2 separate regions of the Homo sapiens genome follow, and region 2 is linked to region 1. The links come from fine-mapping of genetic effects on gene expression. Tissue or cell type: whole blood. Region 1 holds a variant in brackets; the other region holds the start of a gene. All regions are shown on one strand. Distances are between the middles of the regions.

What was found. PIP is the estimated chance that this variant, and not a neighbour inherited with it, causes the effect.
Region 2: TBCD starts here. The variant in region 1 is fine-mapped to the expression of TBCD in whole blood (TOPMed, PIP above 0.99).

What each region holds. Positions count from the first base shown.
Region 1 is chr17:82,958,549-82,966,650 of GRCh38, reverse strand. It overlaps QTGAL (queuosine-tRNA galactosyltransferase), which reads left to right. Exons shown (of 13, transcript NM_001009905.3): 7 at 905-1,000; 8 at 5,470-5,594. Among named protein-coding and RNA genes, the nearest start is that of QTGAL, 89 kb to the left of the region's middle. The variant C/A (reference allele first, on the strand shown) is at 3,498.
Region 2 is chr17:82,748,955-82,757,056 of GRCh38, reverse strand. TBCD (tubulin folding cofactor D) reads right to left here and starts at 4,992. Exons shown (of 39, transcript NM_005993.5): 1 at 4,680-4,992; 2 at 842-892. The coding sequence starts at 4,863. It overlaps FN3K (fructosamine 3 kinase), which reads right to left. Exons shown (of 6, transcript NM_022158.4): 5 at 8,080-8,102; 6 at 5,861-6,640. The coding sequence ends at 6,302. RefSeq lists an enhancer at 1,790-2,084 and silencers at 4,431-4,750, 5,441-5,800.

The DNA of each region.
Region 1 (8,102 bases):
GGGCCATGGTTTGTAAGGACACCAGTGGTTCCAGCGCCATCTCTCATTTCCACCACTGACGCCCCTGATGTCTTCAGCAAACATCAAACCCCAGCCAGGCGGCTCTGCTTCTGGTCTCTGTTCTGTTCCGTTTGTCTGTCTGCCCATAAGCTGATACCAATCAACCTTGATCACCATAGCTTTGTAGTAAATCTTGAAATACAGTCATGAAACTTCAACTTTGTTCATGGTTTTCAAAATTGTGCTGGCTCTCCTAGGTCCTTTGTGTTTCTATATACATTTTAGAATCTCCGTTGAGCCAGGCATGATGGCTCACACCTGTAATCCCAGCACTTTGGGAGGCTGAGCTGGGAGGATCGCTTGAGGCCGGGAGTTTAAGACCAGCCTGAGCAGTGTAGTGAGACCCCATCTCTACAAAAGAAATGTAAGAAAATAGCCAGGCACGGTGGTGTGCGCCTATAGTCCTAGCTGCTTGGGAGGTTCAGGTGGGAGGATCGCTTGAGGCCAGGGGTTTGAGGTCAGCCTGAGCAACAGAGTGACAAACATCTCTACAAAAAAAAAAAAAAAGTAAAAATCAGCCAGGTGTGGTGGCACACGCCTGTGGTCCCAGCTACCTGGGAGGCTGAGATAGGAGGATTGCTTGAGGAGGTCAAGGCTACAGTGAGTGATGATCACAGCACTGGAGAAGGGACACGTCAGCCACGTCATGAAGCCCCTTGAGCCCCGTCCCTGTGGAGAAGGGACACGTCGGCCCCGTGGTGAAGTCTCTTGAGGCCCTGACCCTGTGGAGAAGGGACACGGATTCATCTGTCACTTTCTCGTGACACTTTGTGGAAATAAACTGCAGGTTGTTTGTGACAAGCTGTTCTTTTCCGCTAACTCTGTCAACGTTAATTGCTTCTAGGTTTTCACCTCAAATGGCCCCACGGTGATCATGCCCACCTGGTTCTGCTCGCGAGCGTGGTTCTCCCACGTGGGCCCCTTTAACGAGGGAGGTCAGGTAAGGGCCGAAGGCGGGAATCAGGTCCCTCCCCCAGGTTCGGGGCCCTGTCTCTGTGTGTGGGCTCTGCACACTGGCCACCCTCCGCCTTGCCATGCCTCCGGGGCTCTGCAGATTTAGGAAACCCCTGCCTGAGGGTCCTCCCGGTGCCCCCTCCTGGCACCTGCCAGCATCTTAGTTGTTTTGCTGAAAGCAGGGGGTTTCTGCATGAAGGCTGTGGGTGCCCTGGGCATCTGCACCTGACCTACACTGGCTCCAGGTTACTGCATCCTGGTTTAAAAGCTGTGTCTGGGAAAGCGCAGGACACGGAAGCTTTTGGCAGAGCTGTCTCTGGGACAACAGAGGGAGAAGGGGAGCCCATCCTCCCCCCGGGGGTGCACCTGCAGGCGTCTGTGTCCCCGTCCCCCCCATGGGGGTGCACCTGCAGGCGTCCATGTCCCCGTCCCCCCCGTGGGAGTGCACCTGCAGGCGTCTGTGTCCCCATCCCCCCCGTGGGAGTGCACCTGCAGGTGTCTGTGTCCCCGTCCTCCCCATGGGGGTGCACCTGCAGGCATCCGTGTCCCCGTCCTCCCCATGGGGGTGCACCTGCAGGCGTCCATGTCCCCGTCCTCCCTGTGGGTGTGCACCTGCAGGTGTCCATGTCCCCGTCCTCCCTGTGGGAGTGCACGTTCAGGCATCCATGTCCCCGTTCTCCTGTGGGGGTGCACCTGCAGGCGTCCGTGTCCCCGTCCTCCCGTGGGGGTGCACCTGCAGGCGTCCGTGTCACCGTCCCCCCCGTGGGGGTGCACCTGCAGGCGTCCGTGTCCCCGTCCTCCCCGTGGGGTGCACCTGCAGGCGTCCGTGTCCCCATCCCCCCGTGGGGGTGCACCTGCAGGCGTCCGTGTCCCCGTCCCCCCCGTGGGGGTGCACCTGCAGGCGTCCGTGTCCCCGTCCCCCCGTGGGGGTGCACCTGCAGGCGTCTGTGTCCCCGTCCCCCCCGTGGGGGTGCACCTGTAGGCGTCCGTGTCCCCGTCCTCCCCGTGGGGGTGCACCTGCAGGCATCCATGTCTCCGTCCTCCCCGTGGGGTGCACCTGCAGGCGTCCGTGTCCCCGTCCCCCCGTGGGGGTGCACCTGCAGGCGTCCGTGTCCCCATCCCCCGTGGGACGCACCTGTAGGCGTCCGTTTTAAATACTAGCTATGTCTATTGTTTTTTGTGTTTTAAAAACTCCAATTCTATGTTGGTTAGATTTTCTTAGTCTTTCTAACCCTTTTCACTTCTTTCATTATATAATTTCTATTTTCCTTTCTTCAGTGTCCCTTATTAAATTTTTAATTAAAATCATTTTCTCTTAAGGATTTTGTAATTTAGTCTTCATTTTTCATATATTTTGTTCCTTTTTTTTTTTTTTTTTTTTGAGACAGGGTCTCACTCTGTTCCTGAGGCTGGAGTGCAGTGGCTCACTCACTACAACCTCTGCCTCCCAGGTTCAAGCAATCCTTGTACCTCAGCCTCCTGAGTAGCTGAGACTACAGGTGCACACAACCATGCCCAGCTACTTTTTTCCTATTTTTGGTAGAGACTGGTTTCGACATGTTGCCCAGGCTGGTCTCGAACTCCTGGGCTCAAGCAATCCACCCCCCCGACCTCAGCCTTCCAAAGTGCTGAGATTAAAGGCATGAGCCACCACACCCAACCAATTTTGTCTCTTCTTAAAATTTCTTTTTTTAGTTAAATCGATCCAATTTTATATAAAAGCTTTATTGAGGTATAATTCACATGCCATACAATTCACCTATTAAAATGTGCAATTCAATTTTTTTTTAGCAAATTTATAGGGCTGTACAATCACCAGTCACCACTACCATCTAATGTTAGGAAGTTGTCATCCCCCAAAAAACACTTCCTGCACCCAGGGGCGCACCTCATCTAACAGCCACCTGCCAGCCCTAGCCAAGCACTAATGCACTTTCTTCAATGCTCTAGACCCACCCCATTAGGGTCCAGTTTTGCACTTAGTCCTTGAATTTCTGATTCAAGATGGGTCTCCGCCACCTCCCCGCATATCCCACCCTGTAGCCTGAAACACTGGTGGAGGGTGTGGAATTTATCTTGGTGGGTTATTTACAGGGGTCTCTGTTTCCTGGTTTGGGGTTTGTTGCTATTGTAGAGGGAGAGGCTGAATTTTTATCCATGGAAGTGTTGCCAGTTTTTAGTTTTCTCTGCTGGACTTCATGTCCCTGCGTTCCGCGGACTCCAATCGCTGGGCCCTGGCTCGAGCTCTCCCCCTTCTGTCCCCGCGTGGTGACTGCTGCTTCCTCCTGGAGGTTCGCGCTGGGGATGGGGCTCTAGAGAAGGGCGGGTGGCGCTGGGGACGAGCCCTGGGGAAGGAAGCGCGTCCCTGACTCGGCTTCCTTTTGCCTCAGGATCCGAGTCTCCACAGCCTCTGGCCCGGCCTTCCTGGGAGTGGCTTTAGCTCACGCTTTTCTCCTCCAGGCAGTTCTGGGTGCTCCATCCCC[C/A]AAGGCTGCCCGAGGATGGTTCTGTGAGCAGATTGGGGCTGGGCGGCGGCCACACTTCCTCCACTCGGCTTCTTCCCTGATGCCTTTCTGGGTTGTGACCCCTCCCCCTCTCCCTGCGCCCCGCCAGGGGTCCTCCACACCACAGGGCAGTCCAGGCACCTGGAGGCTGATTGGGAAAAGCCTGGGGGAGGAGTGAGGCCATTTCGGGCCTCTCAGGTCTCAGCAGCAGCAATCAGGGGAGGGGAGAAAAATGGGACAGATCCTCTGCGTCCCCCTCCTCCCAGGGCAGAGGCACCACCCGGGAGCGGCTGTTGACTAAATTCTCACTTTACTGCCAGAAAATAAGAAAACCCCAAGGGTCGGGCTCTTCTGGTGATAGGAAGAGAGAAACCTTTTTTCTCTTCTTAAACCTGTAACATGTTGAGAGTTCCAGTGCTCTTTAGAGCTGCCTTTGAAGACACAGAAAATTAAAGAAAATACCTCAGTGACCCCTGCGAGGGTCCGTGTCCACCAGCACCCGCGGGAGCCTCCACCCTAAATCACCCGTGTGAGGGTCCGTGCCCACCAGCACCCACAGGAACCTCCACCCTAAATCACCCGTGTGAGGGTCCGTGTCCACCAGCACCCGCGGGAGCCTCCACCCTAAATCACCCGTGTGAGGGTCCGTGTCCACCAGCACCCGCGGGACCCTCCACCCTAAATCACCCGTGTGAGACAGCATGTGGGCTTCTGTGATTCCTTTGTCTTTATCTTATGGTGGATAAACTTTTAGCAGGGCTGACACATGATTTTGAGGTCTGTTCTTTGACTCAGCATCTTCTTACAAATCTTTCCATGTCATCGTGGTTTTTGTAAAAGGGATCGCCCTGGAGAGGCGGAGGTTAAACAGTGCCTTTTTTTTGGACGTGGAACCATAGCACTGCCTGTCTGTCCTGGGAGCAAACAGGCCAGCGGTTGGGCCGTGATAGTTTGGGGACTTTACTGACCTGCACTTGAAGTTTGTGTACCAGCCAAGGAGAGAAGAGGCTGGACTTGGTGATAGACTGGCCCTGCTGCTAGGCTCTCAGAAAACCTGCCCTTTCCTGGAGCAAAGGTGTCTCCGGGCGGCTGACCCAGGTGAGCTGCCGCAGAGAACCACGAGGAGACCAGACTCCACGCCCTGCTCCTCCCTCAGTTTTGTTTGAATTTAAGAAAGCGACAGGGGCCCGGCTCCACACAAGGCCCAGAGCCCTGGGCTGAGGATTGGGGTCACCCAGGAGAGGAGCAAGCAGAGGGCAGGGGCCACTGGGATCATGGGCCGGGGAAAGCAGGGCCCAGGTTCTCACAGGACAGAAAAGTCTGGTGGGAATGCCTGCAGAATGTTCTGGAGCAGAGTCCCACTGACATGGAGGGAGTGTTCGGGGATAAGCCCCGTGGGCTGAGGTTCAAGTTTCTGAGCTTGGACAAGTGAGCAGGGCTGGCACAGGCCCGGGGCTGCCTCCCCACTGCTGGGCTCCCCTGCCCGCAGCCCCACACGCCCACCCAGCACCACTGTCCTCTGCCCACAGTCGGCACTTTGAGTCCCTTGAGCTTCTGGGGCTGCAGCCACTGGCAGGAAAGGATGGGGACGGAGGCCGGACCAGCCATCCAGGAGCCGTGGCTGTGAGACCCTGACCCACCCCAGCCCCTTTCCTCGGCTGCCTGTCTTCCTCTTTGCCCTGAGACCTTTACTGCTCAAAATGGAATTTGGGGCAGAACCAAGACCCAGCCCACCCTCCCTTCCCCTCTTTCCCGCCTGTGGAGAAGCTCGGTTGCTCACGTCTGTTGTGGTCGCCGCCCCACGTCCCTGTTGAGCCTCTAGACCGGTTTCTTTGCAACAAAAGCCTTTTCCACCGGTTCCTGGTTGGCCGGCTGAGCGCAGGTGTAGTGTGCATCCGGGGCAGGCACGCGTTTCTGGGGCCCCAGTGATGCCTCTGCTTCTCCCGCCCTGCAGGGCGTCCCGGAGGACCTGCTGTTCTTCTACGAGCACCTCAGGAAGGGCGGCGGCGTCATCCGCGTGGACCAGAGTCTCCTGCTGTATCGCCACCACCCACAGGCGGCCACGCACTGCGTCCTCGAGTGAGTCAGCCCCGCCCGGCCCCGGGACGCCTGAGAGGCCAGGAACACGGGAGGCGCCCGAGGTCGGGGCCGGGGTTGGTGGGGCCGACCCCAGAGGCTGTGGTCAGGCTCTGCCTTGAGACCCAGGGTCTGGTGGGACACGGGGCAACAGCACATCCCGAGGGTGGCGGGGATTCGGCGTCCACGAAGGGGCATTTCCCAAGGGCGCCAGGGAGCGCCAGGGTGAAGGCCGAACGTCCTTCCCTAGTTCCCAGAGGTAAAATGACCACGCGCCGGGTCCTTCTGAAACCCTGTGCTCCCTTTAACCCGACGGGAGTCTCATGAGTGGGGTCCGGCGGGGACCACAGGCCTGGGGGGCGCAGCTGCCGTGGAGGGTGGCAGAGGCACGGCCAGGGAATCGCAGCACCCAGTGAGGACGCGCCCAGTGCTGCGGGGTCCGCCTCCCTCTCCCGTGTCACTGTGAGGAGCGGCCACGTGGGCCCGGGTCTGGGGGTGCCGCGTGGCTGCGTTGGAGCCGTGGCAGGGGTGAGGCAAATCGGGGTGAAACTGCATGTAGAATTCCTTCCTTAGATCCGGGCAGACAGTTCCCTCCTTAGAACTGTGAGGACACAGAGGTCTCGGCCACCTGCCTGCCGCGTGCCGCAGCGTTAAGTTGGAAAGCAGGCCGCCGTCCGAGGCTTGCGTCTCGGCCCCTACGGGTACTCAGGGCCCCCGGAGTCTCAAGACCCCAACTAGGGTCATGTGTGGGTGTGGGAGCCGCGATGGTCCCAGGCCTGCCGTGATGGGGTTGAGACTCTCGGCAAGATCCCAGCTCCCCAGGGGGTCTAAGGTCCAAGGTCACGGGGTGGGGCTGGGGGGTTGGCAGGAGGGCCACGAGCTTCCCCATTGGGGGCATCATCCTCACTCCTGCATGCTGGGGCCTCCCGCGTCCGCGCTCCTCTCCCTTATGCCCACCGGCACCTTGGCCGCCTCCTCATGCGGTGACGTGTCCCTGACACTTCAGCTCCTTTGCAACATTTCCAGAAATGCTGTCTTGTGCTTTTGGGAAAAACTGGGTTTCCACCTTTCCCGGTGCTAAGGCGGGGCCACGGCTTCCTCTGAGGATGTAAAAAGAGAGGCATAGGGCGCCCTGGGGAGCCTGTTCTCCCTGATTAAATGAGAACTTTTTAAAATGTGAAAAATGAAGATGAACCAAATACAGACATCATGGCTGCTTCTACATTTTACCTTCCTACGATGGGCCAACATTTTCAGACCAGAGACCCCTAGGAAAGCCCAGGAGACAAGGGGCCGTCGAGGAGGCCGGTGTCAGAGGCCCCCCAAACCTCGCGTGCCACCCACGGCCACAGAGGCCCCCCGCTTTCTTCTGGAGCCCTGACTGCTTTCCTGTCACGTGAACCCCCTGGGGTCCCTAAGCTGATGTCAGTGGATGAGGAGGATCAGGCTCGTCCCCCCGCCCCGAGACACCCAACACACCCGGGCTGCTAAGGACAAGATGCCAAAACCCGGCGAGGCTGCGTCACCTGGTGGGGAAGTCCCCGCAGCCGTCTGCAGGAGCTGTCCTCACCCAGGTTCTCACACACACACACACACTGCACGTGCACACAGACCACATGTACAGCATGCACACACATACGTGCACGAAAGTATACACACGTACTCACTGCACACGCTCACTGCACACACGCACTCACGTGCACACACACTGCATGTACACACATCTGCACGGTACATGCAGGCATGTGCACTCACTGCATACATGTACTCATACTGCATGCACAGGCCCTCACTGCACACACGTGTACACATGCGTGTACACACATCCACACAGTACATACAGGCATGTACTCCGAACACCTGCACACACTGTACACGTGCTCATGTACACATGCACTCACCACACATGCACACTGTGCACACACAACATACACCCCCACACAGTGTACACACACACCATACACCCCCACACATACACACCATACACCCCCAGTGTACACACACACACACCATACACCCCCACAGTATACACACACACCATACACCCCCACACAGTATACACACACACACACCATACACCCCCACAGTGTACACACACACACATACACCCCCACACAGTATACACACACACACACCATACACCCCCACACAGTATACACACACACACCATACACCCCCAGTGTACACACACACACACACCATACACCCCCAGTGTACACACACACACACCATACACCCCCACACAGTATACACACACACACACATGCTTCAGTGTCCCCAAGTCACTGACTGGGATAAGCATCTCCCTGTGTCCCAGGTGGGGTCCGGACTATTGAGGTGGCTGCAGAGGGTTGGGGAGGAAAAGGTAGACTCCAGGCAGGACCTCCCTGACAGTGCCTAAGCCCTGCAGCTCCCTGAGCTGACAGAGGGGACCCCGTGTCCCCCCATCCCCCCCATCCCATTGCCTGTGGGGGTTCTGCTACAAACAGGGGGTGCCACAGGGTTGGGGGG
Region 2 (8,102 bases), 210 kb after region 1:
TTGTAGGTAGAAAAAGAAAAATTTTAATCAGTGTGAAATACATCAAAAATAAAGAAAACAATAAGAAACCACACCCCTTACACTAAAGTAAGAAAACCGAGCCTCAGTGTCCCCATCTGTAAACTGGAGATGACAACAGATGCCCTCCTTAGCTGCTGTGAGGATTAAATGATGACCCATGTAAAACACCTGACCCTGTATGACTATTACCAGAAAAACATCATGTGCCCAAATGTAAACTAAAATAATAAACTAATGTAAACTAAAAACACTTGAGGAGGCCAGGCGCGGTGGCTCACGCCTGTAATCCCAGCACTTTGGGAGGCCGAGGCAGGCGGATCACGAGGTCAGGAGATCAAGACCATCCTGGCCAACATAGTGAAACCCCGTCTCTACTAAAAATACAAAAATTAGCTGGGCATGGTGGCGCATGCCTGTAATCCCAGCTACTCGGGAGGCAGAGGCAGGAGAATCCCTTGAACCAGGGAGCTGGAGGATGCAGTGAGCTGAGATCGCGCCACAGCACTCTAGCCTGGAGACAGAGCGAGACTCCGTCTCAAAAAAAAGAAAAAAAAACAAAAAAAACACATGAGGAGCAGATGTTGTTTCCTTAGCAGAAAGGAATTAAGTAGCTCAGACACATCTCCCCCCAGCCTAGAGTGACATCTGGAACTCAAGCCACTATCACAGGTCGGCTAAAACCAACCAGCCAGGCAAGCAAGACAGGGACACTTCTTGGCATTTGATCCTGGCAAAGCACATGCATGTGCCAGCACCACACACCAAGGCCTCCGTGGTCATCTGTAACTGAATGATCAAAATCAGCAGCTTCTATTCTTACCAAGGTGCGGGTCCAACAGATGAGGCTGCTCCTGGTATTTGTCCATTATTACTAAAAACAAATATAACATGAAAATTAATTATCACTAGGCCAAACATACCCATGAGCCTCAGAAACCCCATTTTCCCTTGCTAGCTTCCACAGGGCAGCTCCACCTCTTCCCCAGCTCTCAAGAGCACACCTCCCCTCTCACTAAAGGAGGCCACACAGGCCACCTGGAGGGAATGCCCCACCTCCCTCTAGCCTTTTGAGGGCCACTGTGGCCCAGCCTCGTGCAGTTTACTTGCTTGGCACACTGTTCCTCTTTTCCCACTGCCTCGATACTCTTCCTAACAGAGTCTCCTCCTCGCCTCTTCCTTCCTTCACTCTCTCCTGCCTCTGCCAGCCGTTAAGGGCCAAGCTCAACTCTGTCCTTGTGAGACACACATCCCTGGCACTCCTCTCACACTCCCCTGCCAAACATGCCTGTAAACTAAAAACAAAATTCTAAGCCCCCTAGCCATCTAACAGACCCCTCCTCTTGGCCAAGGGCATTCCAAACTTAACCTGAAAAACTAGTTCAGGCCTCATGATATTAAGGGATTGTGGGGAGTGGTCCACATAGGCCTCATTATACCCTCCTCTCGTTGGAATTCAGGCACAGCTGATCAGTATTAGCATTAAAACCGATCTTAAGTAGCAATAAGACACCAAATTCCAGCCTGACTCTAGTACAGCATCACATGACAGACAGCAGGCCCTGAAAGAAATCAAAATATTTTTCCCTAAAATATATTTGACATATTTTGAAATGGTTCTGCTAAGTTGTCTCTTGCTGGGAAAAGCTACATTCTGTAGAGAATCCCTTCCTTTTCTAGGTCTTTTCCCTGATCCAAGAGAAAATTAACTAAGTCTGGTACCTTTTTAGTCTGATGAAAAGCATTTACAATCTATTCTCTCTGAAACCAGCTAACTGGAACCTTCATCTGCATAAGAAAAACCTTGGTCTCCACAATTTATCTTAACCTAGACAATCCCTTCTATGGATTCCAGGTCTTCAGATAAACTCTTTCAACCAATCACCAATCGTGAAATATTTGAATCCACCAATGCCCTGGACGCCCTCCCACCCAAGATGTCCCGCCTTCCCTGACGAGACCAATGTACATCTTACAGGTATTGATTGATGTCTCACGTCTCCCTAAAACGTGTAAAACTAAGCTGTAGCCCGACTTCCTTGGGGACATGTGACCTCCTGAGGCTGCCTCACGGGCACACCCTTAACCTTCTAAACTGATTGAGACTCGTCTCAGATACTTTTTGGTTGACATATCCAGGCACTGCTCCCTTCCACACAGCTGCCAGCTCTTCACAACCTCCCAGACCCTGAACCACCGCTTTCTCCTCCTCTCAGCAGCTGAAACTGCTTCTGTCCAATCCGGCAGCTCCCACCTCCACATCTGAACACACCCACTGCTTCCCAGCAAAACTGCCTTTGCAAAAGTGATCTGTGAGGAAATTATGGCAATGGGGCAGATCTGATCCAGGCAACCCCCTCATGCCTTTAGTCTTCAAGCTGCCAAGCTACCTCTGGGAGACATTTAATTTATAGTTTAAATGCTAAGAGCCCTTCCCCAAAACTCAACTGCCTTTGTAAAGTTAATGAGAGGCCACCAGGCTAGGAGGAGGAGAGGAGCCTGAATTCCGCTAAGGCGTAACCTAATTGCCAGCCATTATTCTTGAGATCACAAGACATGCGAGTTCCCCAGTTACTCCTGCAGACCATGTCACTATTGCAGAACCTGAGACTGGCCTTTAAAGATATCTTTTCAGATTGTTTCCATGTCTGACACCTACACTAGGATCCACGGACCCATGATAGCTCCACCTGGACCCGCCCACTGCTCCTGGGGCCCCACGCAGACGCGATTCAGCACATCACGGAGGATCATTTCCGACTCCCCTATGATTGTATACCCCTAACCAATCAGCCACCCCCACCCTTTCCCCCAGATTACCTCTAAAAAACCCTGGCCCTCAAATTCTCAGGGAGACTGATCTGAGTAATAATAAAACTCCAGCCGGGCGTGGTGGCTCACTTTGGGAGGCTGAGGCGGGTGGATCACGAGGTCAGGAGATCGAGACCATCCTGGCTAACACGATGAAACCCGTCACTACTAATAATACGAAAAATTAGGTGGGCGTGGTGGCGCGCACCTGTAGTCCCAGCTACTCGGGAGGCTGAGGCAGGAGAATCACTTGAACCTGGGAGGTGGAGGTTGTGGAGGTTGCAGTGAGCTGAGATCTCATCACTGCACTCCACCCTGGGGGACAAAGTGAGACTCCGCCTCAAAAAAAAAAAAAAAAACCTCTAGTCTAGTCTCCCTTTCAACCGGCTCTGCGTGAACTAAATCTTCTCCATGGCAACTCCCCTGCCCTGACAAATCAACTCTATCTGGGCAGCCCGCAGAAAGAACCCACTGGGGCCGAGCGCAGTGGCTCACACCTGTAATCTCAACACTTTGGGAGGCTGAGTCGGGCGACCACTTGAGGTCAGGAGTTTGAGACCAGCCTGACCAACATGGTGAAACCCCCTCTACTAAAAATACAAAATTAGCCGGGCGTGGTGGCGCGCGCCTGTAGCCCCAGCTACTCGGGAGGCTAAGACAGGAGAATAGCTTGAACCTGAGAGGTTGAGGTTGCAGTGAGCCAAGATCGCACCACTGCACTGCACTCCAGCCTGGGCAACAGAGCAAGACTTCGTATCAAAAAAAAAAAAAAAAAAAAAAGGAAGAAGCCATTGGGCTGTTACACCAGGAACAAAAAATCTGGCTTCACTGGTCCCTGGATGAGGGTCCCTCACCCTCAGAACAGTTCTGCACGAGAGGCATCGTTATCCGCCCCAGCTTACACCCGAAGAAACAGGCAATCAAGTATCAGGTCCAAGCGACAGGGCCAGAATTCACAGGCAGGAGGATCTGACGCCGAACCCGCACTCCTCCCACAAGGCCCCCCACCCTGCCTGACTCCTAAAATCAAAGCGCTGTCATTCTAAAATGAGGAAGGCCAAATAATGCAAAAGTTCTTCTTACTCAAAGGGTCTACAAAGATGATTTTACTGAATTACAAAACCCCATGTAACTACTTAGCTATGAGCTCCTAAGGACTTGTTTGGAAATAACCCATTATAGACAGCGGTAAAGGTGGGTCTGAACTCGGAGAATTTAGACTCATCGAATGGCCTCCACAGGGGTACCTACACCCCACCCCGCCTGCAGAGGCACGGACCCGGCCAGCCCGCTCTGTCCACGGCGTCCACGGAACGGACAGGCTGCTGCCCTCCCCACCCGAGGCGCGCTTTGTTTGCAGCAGGTTTGTTCCCTGCGTCCCCCTCTCTCATTCCCTATCTCCCTGTCCACACAACATTCACAGAAACCGCGCTCGGTGGAGGCAAGCCTGGGAGTCCACACTGCAGGGCTGACCAGCTGTCCGGAGGGGTCTGGCCCGAGTCTCCCCAGCCCAGGGACCTCCTCCAGTGACGGAGACGGGGGACGGAGGGCTTCTGCACCCCGCCTCCCGGGGAGGCCGCAGAGGCTTCACCCCGTGCGAGAGCAGGCGCTCCGCGGGCCACGGTCCCCCCAAGGGAGGCGCGCGTCTGCCCCGTGCACCTAACGCCGCGCCGGGGTGGCCCTCTCCCGCCTAGGAAGGCCGCGCCCCACCACGGCCCGCGGGACCGCGCACCGGCAGCCCTCGCAGAGCGGCCGGCGCCGCCGGGCTGCGGTCCCCGCCCGGTAAAGTGCACTCAGCGCGCCGAACCCGGGCCGGGGGAGGAAGCGGGCACGCGGCGCCGCCCACGCACCGCGGAACCGCTCCAGGGCCACCTCGCGCTCCGCGCCGCCGCCGTGCACCTCCCGCAGGCGGCCCAGCAGCGCCCGGGTCTCCGCGCTCTCGCCGAACGCTTCCAGCGCCGCGCCAAAGGCCAGTGTCTCGTCCTCCGCCTCCTCCTCGGGGCCGCCCGCGGCCGGTTCGTCGCTCAGGGCCATCTCGGCAGCCTGGGGACCGCGCCCCCGCCTCACGTGTTCGCAGATCCCACTCCGCTAGAGCGCGAAAGCCAGGGATGAAGGATGAGGGATGAAAAGGAGGCGCCCGCTAAGGCGGCAACCGACGCTGGCCCCGCCCCGCGACCTCCGACCCCACTCGCCGGCCTCGCTACGGAACGCGTCGGCCGCCAAAATACCGCGCGCGGGACGGCGCGTGCACTTGAGGACGCGAGCGGGCACGGGTCCCAAAGGCTCTGGAAGAGCGCGCCGTGGACCCCACAGGGCGCGAGCGGAGCCGGGACCGCTCAGCGGGGCCTGAGCACGCGGTGGGCGGGGCAGGACAGGAGGTGGGGCCTGAGACGCGGTGGGCCGGGCTGCGGGGTGAGGCCGCCGCCGGAGGACAGCGGGGCGGAGCCTGAGCAGGCGGTGTGCGGGGGGGCGGGGCTTCGGGATGGGGCCGGGGGCCGCCAGGGCGGGGCTTGAGCACGCGATAGGGGGCGGGGCTGCGCGCAACGGGGGCGGGGCCCGGGCACGCGTGGGTGGGAGGGGCAGGGCTTGCGGTGGGGCCGGAGACAGCGGGGCGGAGCCACAACACGCCGGGGGGCGGGGCGGGGGCGGGGCGGGGGCGGGTGGGACCGGGGGACCGCGGAGCGGGGCGGAGCCTCAGCATGCGTGGACGGGGAGGGGCGGGGCCTGAGCACGCAGTCGGGGGCGCGAGGCGAGCCCCGGGACCCACCCCTCAGAGCCAACCGCCCTGACACTTATTCGCGCCACGCTGGGACCCGCGCGGATCACACGGGCCCCGCGCCGAGTGGTGGCGCGCCCCAGAGCGGGAGCGGGAGCGGGGCCCGGAGGCCGCGGTGGGCGCTGCGCCGACTTTGGCCTTGGCTACCGGGTCCGCGTGCGTTTCCCCTGAATCGCCGCAAAAACGTCCGTGCACAGCTCGCCGTGCGTCTGGCCCTGAAAGCAGCCCCACGAGCGGAGGAACGAGGCGCAGGACGCCAGCCGAGACCCGCTGCGGGCTTTATTGGTCCCCAGGATCTGGGAGGGGTCGGGGGAAGGGGGACAGGGACAGGGGGGACGGGGACGGGGGACGGGGACGGGGGGACGGCGATGGGAGACGGGGATGGAGGATGGGGACGGGGGAACGGAGACGGGGACGGGGCAGGGGGGACGGGGACGGAGATGGGGGACGGGGATGGGGGGTCGGGGACAGGGGGATTGGTATGTGGACAGGGGGACAGGGGGACGGGGGACAGGGATGGAGGGACGGGGACGGGGGGACGGGGACAGGAGGATGGGGGGACGGGGGGATGGAGACGGAGGGACGGGGAGACGGGAACAGGGGGACAGGGACGGGGGCACAGGGACGGGGGACGGGGGGACAGGGACGGGGAGACGGAGACGGGGACGGGGACAGGGGAAGGGAGGGCAGGGGCCGCTACTTGAGCAGCCTTCGCATGGTGCCCAAGGAAGGGCTCCTGTACTCCCGCCCGAAGTGGTTCCAGTGGTTCAGGTAGTTAAACAGCTGGTAGAGCAGCAGCCGCTGGTCGAAGCCCGGAGCCTTGGGGATCTTCCGGTGGTAGGCGGTGAAGAAGGATCTGGGGAACCCCCCAAACATCAAGGCGATTGCCAGTTCAAACTCGGAATGGCCATAGAAGGAAGCCGGGTCGTAAATAATGGGCCCCACGTCGTCCTCAGCCACGTTTCCCGACCAGAGATCCCCGTGGAGCAACGCGGGGACAATCTCTAGGCCACAAAACAGATCCGGGATCTTCACCTACGAGAGCAACGGCTGCAGTTATCGCTGGCCTCTGGGAGCCCCGGTCTCATCACCTCGTTCTTGGAAATAAGGCAAAGCCCACTCGCGATCTGCTTCGGTGTCCAGCCCCAGCACTGCCTGCCAAGCCCAGAAATAGGGGCCACCTGACTTCAGGGGAGTCTAGCTTTGTCTAACTTAGGATTTCCTCCTAATTTAGGTCTAGAATCCCCACACAGTGGAGAACCTCTGAGGTTATAGTTTTAATCGACCCACAGAATAGGAACCAGTGTTGCGCTACCTTAGCAAACTCTGGCCACTTTTATTTCGCTACACATATATGTCTGCAGGTTTTGTTTGGTTTTGTTGTTTTTTTCTTTGAGAGGGAATCTTGCTCTGTCACCCAGGCTGGAGTGCAGTGGCGCCATCTCGGCTCACTGCAACCTCCGCCTCCCGGATTCAAGTGATTCTCCTGCCTCAGCCTACTGAGTAGCTGGGATTACAGGCACCCGCCACTACACCCGGCTAATTTTTGTATTTTTAGTAGAGATGGGGTTTCACCATATTGGCCAGTCTGGTCTTGAAATCCTGACCTCAGGTAAAATCTATCCACCTCGGCCTCCCAAAGTGCTAGGATTACAGGCTTGAGCCACCGTGCCCAGCCTAGTTTCTTCATTAATGAGTTCAAGTCTCTTTGATGTATACTCACTCTGGATTGACATGCACATTCTTTTTTAACATTTTGAGAGTTATATTTTGATTTTTTTTCTTTTTGATACAGGATCTCACTCTGTCGTCCAGGCTGGAGTGCAATGGTGCAATCTCCCCTCACTGCAGCCTCCGCCTCCCGGGTTCAAGTGATTCTCCTGCCTCAGCCTCCTGAGTAGCTGGGATTACAGGCATGCACCACCATGCACGGTTAATTTTTGCATTTTTAGTACAGACAGGGTTTCACCATGTTGGCCAGGCTGGTCTCAAACTCCTGACCTCAAGTGATCTGCCCACCTAGGCCTCCCAAATGCTGCGATTACAGGCGTGAACCACTGTGCCCGGCCGAGAGTTATGTTTTGAAATCAGTCATTCTGGATCATCTGGTACCCACATCTTCCCATGGGAGAGGAACACGATGGAGTGGACAAGTGTTACTGATAGTAAGAACAGTAATCATGGTAAACACCACCATTTACAAGCACCTGTGTTTCACATGAGGAAAGTCTGAGGCTAAATACCTGGTGACCTAGCAGTGGAGAGGGGCACGAGGAGCCAAGTGTGTCTTCACTCCTCACTCCTTTCGGACTCCCTTTTGGGGGAACCCCCGCCCCTGCCCCCCTTCCTCCCTGATGTGTGCTCCAGGACTCAGTGTTCCCTGCTCCAGCTCCGTTTTACAGATGAACCCGCACAAATGCGGCGGGATCATGAGAGGACCAGCTCTTTCCCAGAGAAGTCACTGCCGTGCCCACCTGTAGCCGGGACCAGAGTTCTC